Linked DNA regions of Homo sapiens: region 2 is linked to region 1. The links come from fine-mapping of genetic effects on gene expression. A gene starts in region 1. The other region holds a variant in brackets. All regions are shown on one strand. Distances are between the middles of the regions.

Region 1 (4,000 bases):
TATTGTCCATTTAAAAAATTATAGCCATGCTAGTGGATATAAAGTGATGTGTCATTCTGGTTTTGATTTGCATTACCCTAATGACTGATGATGTTGAACAACTTTTCATGTGCACGTTGGCTATGTGTATATTTTATTTGAAAAAATGTTTATTCAAATTCTTTGCCCTTATTTAATTGGCTTGTCTTTTTACTTTCTTTGTTATTATTATTATTTTAGAGATGGGGTCTTTCTGTGTTGCCTAGGCTGGCCTTGAACTCCTGGGCTCAAGTGATCCTTCTGCCTCAGCCTCCTGAGTAGCTGGGATTATGGGTGCTGGCTTATTTTTTCACTTTCTTGATAGTGTACTTTGAAGCACAAAATTTTTAGTTTTGATGAAGTCCAATTTATATATTTGTTTCTTTTGTTGCTTATGACCATCTGCTTTTTAAATTAAACTCAGAAATCCTAAAGCTTTTCCATTAAGCACAACAAATAATAAAACTATATATCTTAATTCCATGTTGTAGCAATTTAAGGGGGTGGAATTGACGTCAGGGAGAGGGAGAAGGTGGGGGTAGACTCTTTACTTGGACTTTAGACCTCAAAGTCTGAATGTTAGCAACTGCCTTTGAGCATTGAGCACATAATCATCAAGGATAACTAACTCTTTGGAAACTGCCTTAATCACTAAACCTTCAGTAGCTTTCTTCTGGAAGGGGTGAAGCCCCTGCTACCAAGAAGGAGCTCACTCTCTGCACTGCAGCAATGTTACCTAAGGACAAGTGAAAATGAAGATAAAGTGTCAGAAAAAGGGAAAGCTTTGCAGTCAGGCTGTTAGGAGTCTCCACTGGGTTCTCTGGAACTAGATGCTGCAACAGAGGTAGAAGTGCAAAGGGGAGGATCACCTGTGAGTGGAAAAGGGAGGAAGCAGTTTGGCCAGGAGGAGCTCTTGGCTTCTGATGCAGACTTGACAAAGCCTCTGCCAGTCTAACAGGGTGCTCTGAGCAAAAATTGCTTGTTAGAGGAGTTCCGCATTGGTAGAAGAGGGATGGGCCTTTGTACTACCACCTTGCTCAGCCATTGGCTAGGGGCTGCCTTAAGAAGAGAGTGACTGTGGCTTAAAAACTCAGGTGGTCCTTGAAGGAACTAATTGCTGGGGGCAAATAAAACCAACATTCTTGGTAGCAGGGGAGTGAGTCCTTTATTGAAGGGGCAATGTAAGCATGGCATCTCTGTGTCTGTCTACCACACAGACAAACATGAAGTTCAAATTCCAACAACATGTGACCTTAGGCAACCACTCTGCCTCAGTTTTTTCATCTGTAAAATGGAGAAAATGCTTTCCTTACAGGGTTGTGGGAGGATTAAATAAGACAAGAATGAACATAGTGCCTGATACAGCACAGGCATTCAATAAGTATTAGTTCTTCCCTTTCCCCCAGATGAAAATAAGCCAAGGGAACATTCTGTTCTGCAAACCAGTTCCCACCCTGCTCTTTCTAAACTTCATTTTCTTTCAATTTCCAGTAGGGGACCAAGCCTCTGCGGCAGTTTCCTGATCTTCTGGATATGCTGCCACGCTGTCCCAGGGCTGGTGGTGTCCCCTGACTTGTTCCTCTCCTGACTTTCTCAGCCTGGAGACTGAAAGCTCTCTTTGGCTGTTGGCCCTCCCAGGCAGAGTCCACTGGCTGTTAGGGTGAAATGGGGCTGATGCTTCCTGGAATCCACCAGAAGTATGCAAATTGCACCATCTCTTTCAGCTGCCTGCGCCTGCATTCCATCGAGGATTCCGGTAAGAAGAAACCATCCTGTTCCTCTTTCTAAGTGCCTCATTAAAGCTGGAGGACAAATTCCTCCTGCTTCTCTTGCCCTGGGAGGTGAGACAGCACCTGAATGGGAAGAGGAGGTTGTGCTCCGCGTGACATCATCCTTCATGGGGTACTCTGACCACAGGGACACTGGTGTCCAAGGCCCAGGTACTTCCTGTGTGCCTGATTCACTGGGGAGTCTCAACTCGTTGGGGTATAAACATGAAAAGATTTTATTTCTTCCAGTAACTGCCCTGGCTGTGCTGTGCCAGATCTCTCTTTCCTGCTGAGGAGCCGCTCCCTTAACGACATCTTGGTCTGGTTCCATAACTTTTCAGCCACTTTCGGTTACTATAACAGTCTCATTCCAGTAATTAAGACTCAGCCTCTTATATTTTTAAAACTTTCATTGCAAACTCGATTCAGAGCTCTTCTCTCCCCTTCCCTCCAGCACAAGTGAGAGTTGGGTCCTGGTTGTTTGGAGCAGTGGAGGGGAAGTAGGGCCTGGCTTGAAGATGCCTCACCTCCTCCCTCTTTGAGGCCTCAGCATCTGTATTTGGGCAGAGAGGAGGGATGGAGAGTAAGAGACCTCTTTACAGGAGTGTCCTTTTCCCCTTCCTGTTCTTTGTGGCTCTGTTAGATGCTGAAGATCTCACCCCACCCTCCTCCATCACTGAACACCACCCTTTCCCCCTCCTTCCCTCACACAGATGCACCTCTCTTTAGCCTCAACAGTGGTACAGGTGCCCAACGACCCTTTGTTGACTTGGCCATGGGTACCTGGGCAAACCCTCAGCTCCTGCCCTTCCACTGACTTCCGTGCATCTCCATGCAGAGCCACAGGGCCTGCAGGAATCCTCTCCCATAATCCTTCAAGGGCCCCACAGACCTGGGAAGGGAGAGCTGCCCCCATCTTCTTCCCAGTCATGCTGCCCCAGGGTCCTTCGAGCCCTGCCGGATGGGCTACTGTAGTGGGCCTCTTGCTTTCAGAATCTCCCAGACTCAGATGGATACCAGTCTCTACATTCAAGTGCAGTCCCAGCCCTCAAAGTAAGTTCATCAGGCATCCTGCTTTTCCTTCCCACAGTGGGGTAGGTGAACAACAAGGGCACTGGGCTGCAGTCCTAGGCTTCCAGGATGGCAAGGACTCTGACAGTGAGCTGTGCCTCTGAGGCATCAGGGAGAGTCTGGATTCCCTCTCCCCTCACACTGGGGCAGGAAAGCACCCTTATCATCTCCACAGGGGCGTGAAGGGTGACTCTTCCTTGATCTCTCTCAGTCCTGCTCCTGACTGGACGTGGGCTGGGTGCCGGTCCATTTAGAGGGTGCTGGTGCCTTGAACAGCAGTGTGTGGAGGTGGCTGGCTCCATCTGCTGGCGGCTTGCTGGTAATTCTGTGGGGTTGCTTGGCTCCTCTTGGCTGTGGGTCTAGCATAATGGGGACACACGCTAGGACATGCACAGCTGCAGGCAGTGCTATCCTGTCTCTTCTCTTTTAACCTGTGTTGAAGTTGTCCTTCCTCCTGAAAGGATTTCTTGATTAATTCCCACCATTTGACATGCTCCTTCACTGCACAACCTCAGCGCTGAGACTCTCAATTGGTAGTAAGTTCATGTGCCCGCAAGTGAAATGTCTCTTGAGTAGTTTTCATGTGTTTTGAGGATAGTTAGTGTTTATTGAGCTCTTCCATGTGCCATCTACTGTCCCAAGCACGTCACATACTTCATCTCATCTCCTCACACCACAATCCAATGAGCTAGGTACCGTCACTGTCCCCATTTTACAGATGAGAAAACTGAGATAGAAATGTTAAATAGCATCTCTAAGGTTTATAGTCAGAAAGTGATGTAAAGAGGCACGCTGAACTCGGAGCTTCTACTCTCTACCGATACTCTGTTCTGCCTACTTGGTTTCATACTGTGATCCCTCTGCCTCCTCACCTCTCCTCATCCCTTACCCTGAAAGCCTTAAATAAGTATATGTGGTTCACAGTGAAGTACTCCCCATAATATTTTTTTGTTTAGACTAACGGAATCTTCCCATTTGGGGCTTGTGCAAGAGCTGAACTAGCCCTGGTGAGATTGTGGTCAACTTACAAATGGGCCAAGCTGTGTGGTCATGTTGAAGTCATTAGCACAGAGCCTTTGGACACAAGGACAAATCCTGCTCTAACATTTTAGATTAATTTTTTCCCAGGGAGGCCTAGAATC
Region 2 (4,521 bases), 120 kb after region 1:
ATAGAACGTTTTATTCCATAAGAGCATGGGATTTACATTTGTTTTGTTTATGGCTGTATCCCTGGTGCCTGACCACGATAGGGGCTCCCTGCATCCTGTTGAAAGAATAAATAGACTTGACATATCGGCTCTGGGAGAGGGAGTCTCTGCTCCCTGCTCAGAATGAGGGCTTGGGGCTGTTCTCTCTCCCACTGTGTGGAGAGCACCTCCCTGAGTGTGTGTTCCCAGGCACAAGGAACGCAGATGGAGGCATCAAGTCCTCAAGACACAGCATGTCCTCCTGGACCTGGCCAGCTCCACCCTGGCTTCCCAATCCCTCCAGAAACCTCCTCTTTGGCATAGCTGGTTTGAGTTTGGGTTGATCACTTTCAACTGAATGAACCCTGGCCAAAAAAGTCTTGGCCCTTGGGAATCATGAGAATTTAGCCAAGTGACAGGGTCAAGACACTTGGAACAGGAGCCTGGCATTGAGGCAAGCGTTGGTATACATTCTGTGGAGTTCTTTCACCCCAGACAGGCAGGGTAGAGTATTCTGGCTATGAAAGAACACTTCTGAGAGCAGAAACTAAACTTCTTCTGCTCTGCCCTATGCAAATCTACTAAAGACAGACCTTCTCTGTCTGTTACTCAGGGCCATACAGGAAAGAAAATGCAGGCTGGTAGTTCTCACCTGATTCCAGCCCCTTAAGCCTTCCAAGACCACTGCAAGTGACACAGGGAGGAGGTGCCCTAGGCACATGAAAGACCTTGACCATGATGTCTGAAAACCTAAGCCAGGATCTTGGCTCTGCTATCCCAGCTGCATGGCCTTGAGCACGTCTCTGCATCTCCTTGGCCTCAATTTTTCTCATCTGTAAGGTGAGAGGGATGAAATAAATTACTCTCAAAGTTCTTTTCCACATAACATTCAATGGAAGCAGTAGAGCATTATGGTTAAATACGTAGACTCTGGGGCCAGGCTGCCCAAGTTCAGTTCTATTGCTTACTGCAAGCTTAACTTCTGAGCCTCAGTTTCCTCATATTAAAATGGAATACAAAATGATACCTACCTCATGGGGTGGTTATAAGAATTAAATGAATAGAACACATAGAGGGCACAGAAGTAAGCTAGGCATATACTAAGTCCTCAAAAATATTAGCTACTATTATTATTTACCATTATTGAAAGAATTTACCCTGGATCCTGGAATGATTTCTGCTTCATCTGTAAAGGTGACCCCTTCCAAAGGCAGAGCCCTTTTCCCAGGGGTTGCAGCTCCCCCATCTTTGCATGAGCACTGACCATTCTCTCCCTCTCCTGTAGTGTCTGGAGGCAGCAGAGTGCCCTGAGGGCCAGGAGTCAGCTTCCCCACCTCCGGGCTGAAGGCTGGGGCTGGCTTCACTCACTTAATTTGGAGAATTTCCATAGCCCTTTTAGCATATTTTGCTTGGGCTAGCTTATTTTCGCCAACCATACATCTTATCACTGTCATAAATTTTTATTCCTATGGACATGTCTAAACTTATGGGTTGAAATAACGTAATTTACATGCTGTTTAGTATGCAGATTGGGTTAATCTGCTTCTGCAGATTCACCACCAGGCCTGTGTAGCCTCTCTCTCCCTCCAGGACCTCAGCCTGATTTGAATATTGCATTCTGTTTTGTGTGGGGCGGTGAAAGATGTGTGGATCACAAGCCTCCCCTAGACAGCTCCAGCACCCCACTCCCTGCGCCTGCGGTCCACCCTGCACACAGCTCCCCCAGGCAGAGGCCTCCTTCCCACTGCATGTCACTCCCACAGACTCCCCATCTCAAGGCTAAAAAGCCATCAGCAACCAGGTGAGCTCTCTTTTGTCTTAGGCTGCATTCTGAGATGAGGATTTCAATGTGAATGAATCCAGGGGACATTGAACCCAGGAAGCACTGGCAGGTACAGAAGGGAAGAAAGCCAAAACAATGTGTCCTGGAGCAGGTTAACCCTGTGGGCATGTGGGCTCAGTCCCACTGGGGACTCCGGGAGATGGTTTTGAACATGACTCAGAGTTGTCCCATAGAAAGGGTGAAGAAGCCAGGGTCTTTATTCTTTAACTCCTCACCATCATTTGCTGGATCCATGGTCCTTATTCTCTAACTGCTTGCCATCATTTGCTGAGGGCTGTTGGCTGAGGGGTATTAATCCTTGCCCACCGCCCCCGTGCATCTGACCTGCCCCATGTGCAGGCTGAGGAAAGCCTTCAGGAAGGGGTGATAGGTGTTCTCAGAAGGACGTCATTGGCACTTACCTGAATAAA[G/C]AATGACAAGGAGATATGAGTGGGGTGCCCTGTTCATAGCCTCTCTTTCCCATTTTCAGCCTGATTCTCCCTCACTTCACCTAGGCTTTGTATCCATTTCATTTCCTCAAGGAGGCCTTTCCTAACTCCCCTATTTGAGACAATGCCTTCTCATGCTTTATCCTCCTTTACTGCTTGTTTTTCTATCTGTGTGTTTTTTTGTCTGAGTCATTTTAGTGTGGGAAAAGACAGTAAGCAGACAAATATTTAATATATCAGGCAGTCAAGGGCATGACAGAGAAAATTAAAGCAGGAGAAGAAGACTTAGGAATGTCATATGGGGATGGATTGCTATTTTATATGGGACAGAGGCGTGTGTCAAGGTTGTCCTCTCCAATAAGACATCAGTGAGCTGGGAGAGACCTTTAGCAAGTGAAGGAGTGAGCTGTGCAGAAGAGCTTTCCAGGCAGAAGGAACAGCAGGTGCAAAAGTCCCAAGGGGGACATATGTTTGACTCATTTGAGGCTAACATTGTGGGAGCACAGCATTTGAAGGGGAGAGGAAGGAAATGAGGAGGAAGATGGAGAGGAGAAGGAGAGGTAATAGGAGGTCTGATTATATAAGACCCTGGAGGTCTTGGTAAAGACTTTGGATCTGTGTGTTAGTCAGGGTTCTGCAGAGAAACAGAATCAACAGGGTGTATATATAAACAGACTTATTGTAAGGAATTAGCTCATGCAATTATGCGGTTTGACAAGTCCCAAGATCTGCTGTTGGCACCCTAGAGACCCAGGAGACTCAGTGGTGTAGTTCTAGTTTGCATACTGGCAGGCTGGAGACCTGGGAAGAACCAATATTTTAGTTTAAGCCTGAGGGGTGGAAAAAAGCCAGTGTTTCAGCTCAAAGGCAGTCAGGAAGGAGGAGTCCCCCTTACTTGTGGAAGGATCAGCCCTTTTGTTCTAGTCAGCTTTCAACTGATTGGATGAGGCCACCCACACTGAGAAGGGCAATTTGCTTTACTATCAACAGATCCAAATGTTAATGTCATTGAGAAACACCTTGACTGACACACCCAGAATAATGTTTGAGCAAACATCCGGGCTCTCCATGGCTCAGTCAAACTGGCACATCATACTCTGAGTGAGATTGGAAGACACTGTAAGTTTTACAGATAAGTGGTGTAATTTGACTTATGTTTTTAAAAATTACTCTGGCTGCTATGTGAAGAAAAGTCTGCAAGGGGCAAGGGTTAATCAGGGACAATTTTTCAGAAGCTATTGCTATAATTCAGGCAAGTGATGGTGGTGGCTTGGGGCAGGGAGACAGTGGGTGGAGGTGGTGAGAAGTGGTTAGATTCTAGATGTATTTTGAAGGGAAAACCTGCAGGATTCATTGATGGGTTGGAATGTAAAATGTGACAGAAGGAGAGGCATCAAGGATGATACCAACGTTTGGGGCCTGAGTAATCAGAGGGTAGGAGGTTCCATTAATTGAGATGTGGAAGACTGTTGGACCAGCTGGTTTGATCAGGATAAATCAGGTGTTAGGTTTTAAATACGTCAAGTTCAAGATGTCTGTTTATGTTTAAGCAAGAATGTAGAGCAGGCCATGGGATATGTTTGACTGGAATTCAAAACTCTGATGTAGTTTAGTTCAGTTTGGCAATCAATAAGTACTTCTTGGCCAGTCGCATTGCCTCACACCTGTAATCCCAGCATTTTGGGAGGCCAAGGTGGGAGGATCGCTTGAGCCCAGGAGTTCAAGACCAGCCTGGGTGACATCGTGAGACCAGTCTCTACAAAAAAATTTCAAACTTAGCTGGGTATGGTGGCACATGCTTGTAGTCTCAGCTACTCAAGAGGCTGAGGCAGGAGGATCACTTGGGCCTGAGAGGTCAAGGCTGCAGTGGCTGTGCCACTGCACTCTGGCCTGGGCAACAGAGAGAGACCCTGTCTAAAAAAAACAAAAACGTACTTCTTGAGTGAGTGATTATGAGACCAGTCAGATTTGTCCCATGAGTCTCCAATGACCTTCTGCATATCACTAATCCTTGTAGTCCAGAGAGGCCACCTCCAGCAGGTGACATCAGTCTCTGCTCTAGAACTAGGACTCATTAAACTGTTTGCCATGATGCTCTTGCTAATTATTTGACCTGGTAGAGACAGGTAGAATCTAGACAAGTGTCTTTCACTGGCATTGTAAGCTTTTAAAACATTCTATTGCTCCATTCCCAGATTCTGATTCAGTTGATCTGGGGTGAAACTTGTACAT

Alleles and levels. Positions count from the first base shown, and alleles are read on the strand shown. Sizes are in standard deviations (SD) of each study's normalised expression.
In carriers of allele C in region 2, the expression in subcutaneous fat of the gene that starts at base 1,529 in region 1 tends to be higher than with G alone (small effect, 0.23 SD a copy in GTEx).

Evidence for each region. PIP is the estimated chance that this variant, and not a neighbour inherited with it, causes the effect. A credible set is the group of variants that fine-mapping cannot tell apart.
Region 2: its variant is the best candidate, but not a certain one, in a credible set for the expression of LINC02884 in subcutaneous fat (GTEx, PIP 0.50).

Annotation. Positions count from the first base shown.
Region 1 is chr1:112,358,136-112,362,135 of GRCh38, reverse strand. It overlaps LINC02884 (long intergenic non-protein coding RNA 2884), which reads left to right and starts at 1,529. Exons shown (of 2, transcript NR_183466.1): 1 at 1,529-1,774.
Region 2 is chr1:112,236,957-112,241,477 of GRCh38, reverse strand. All of the region lies in intron 1 of LINC02884 (long intergenic non-protein coding RNA 2884), which reads left to right. Among named protein-coding and RNA genes, the nearest start is that of LINC02884, 120 kb to the left of the region's middle. The variant G/C (reference allele first, on the strand shown) is at 2,272.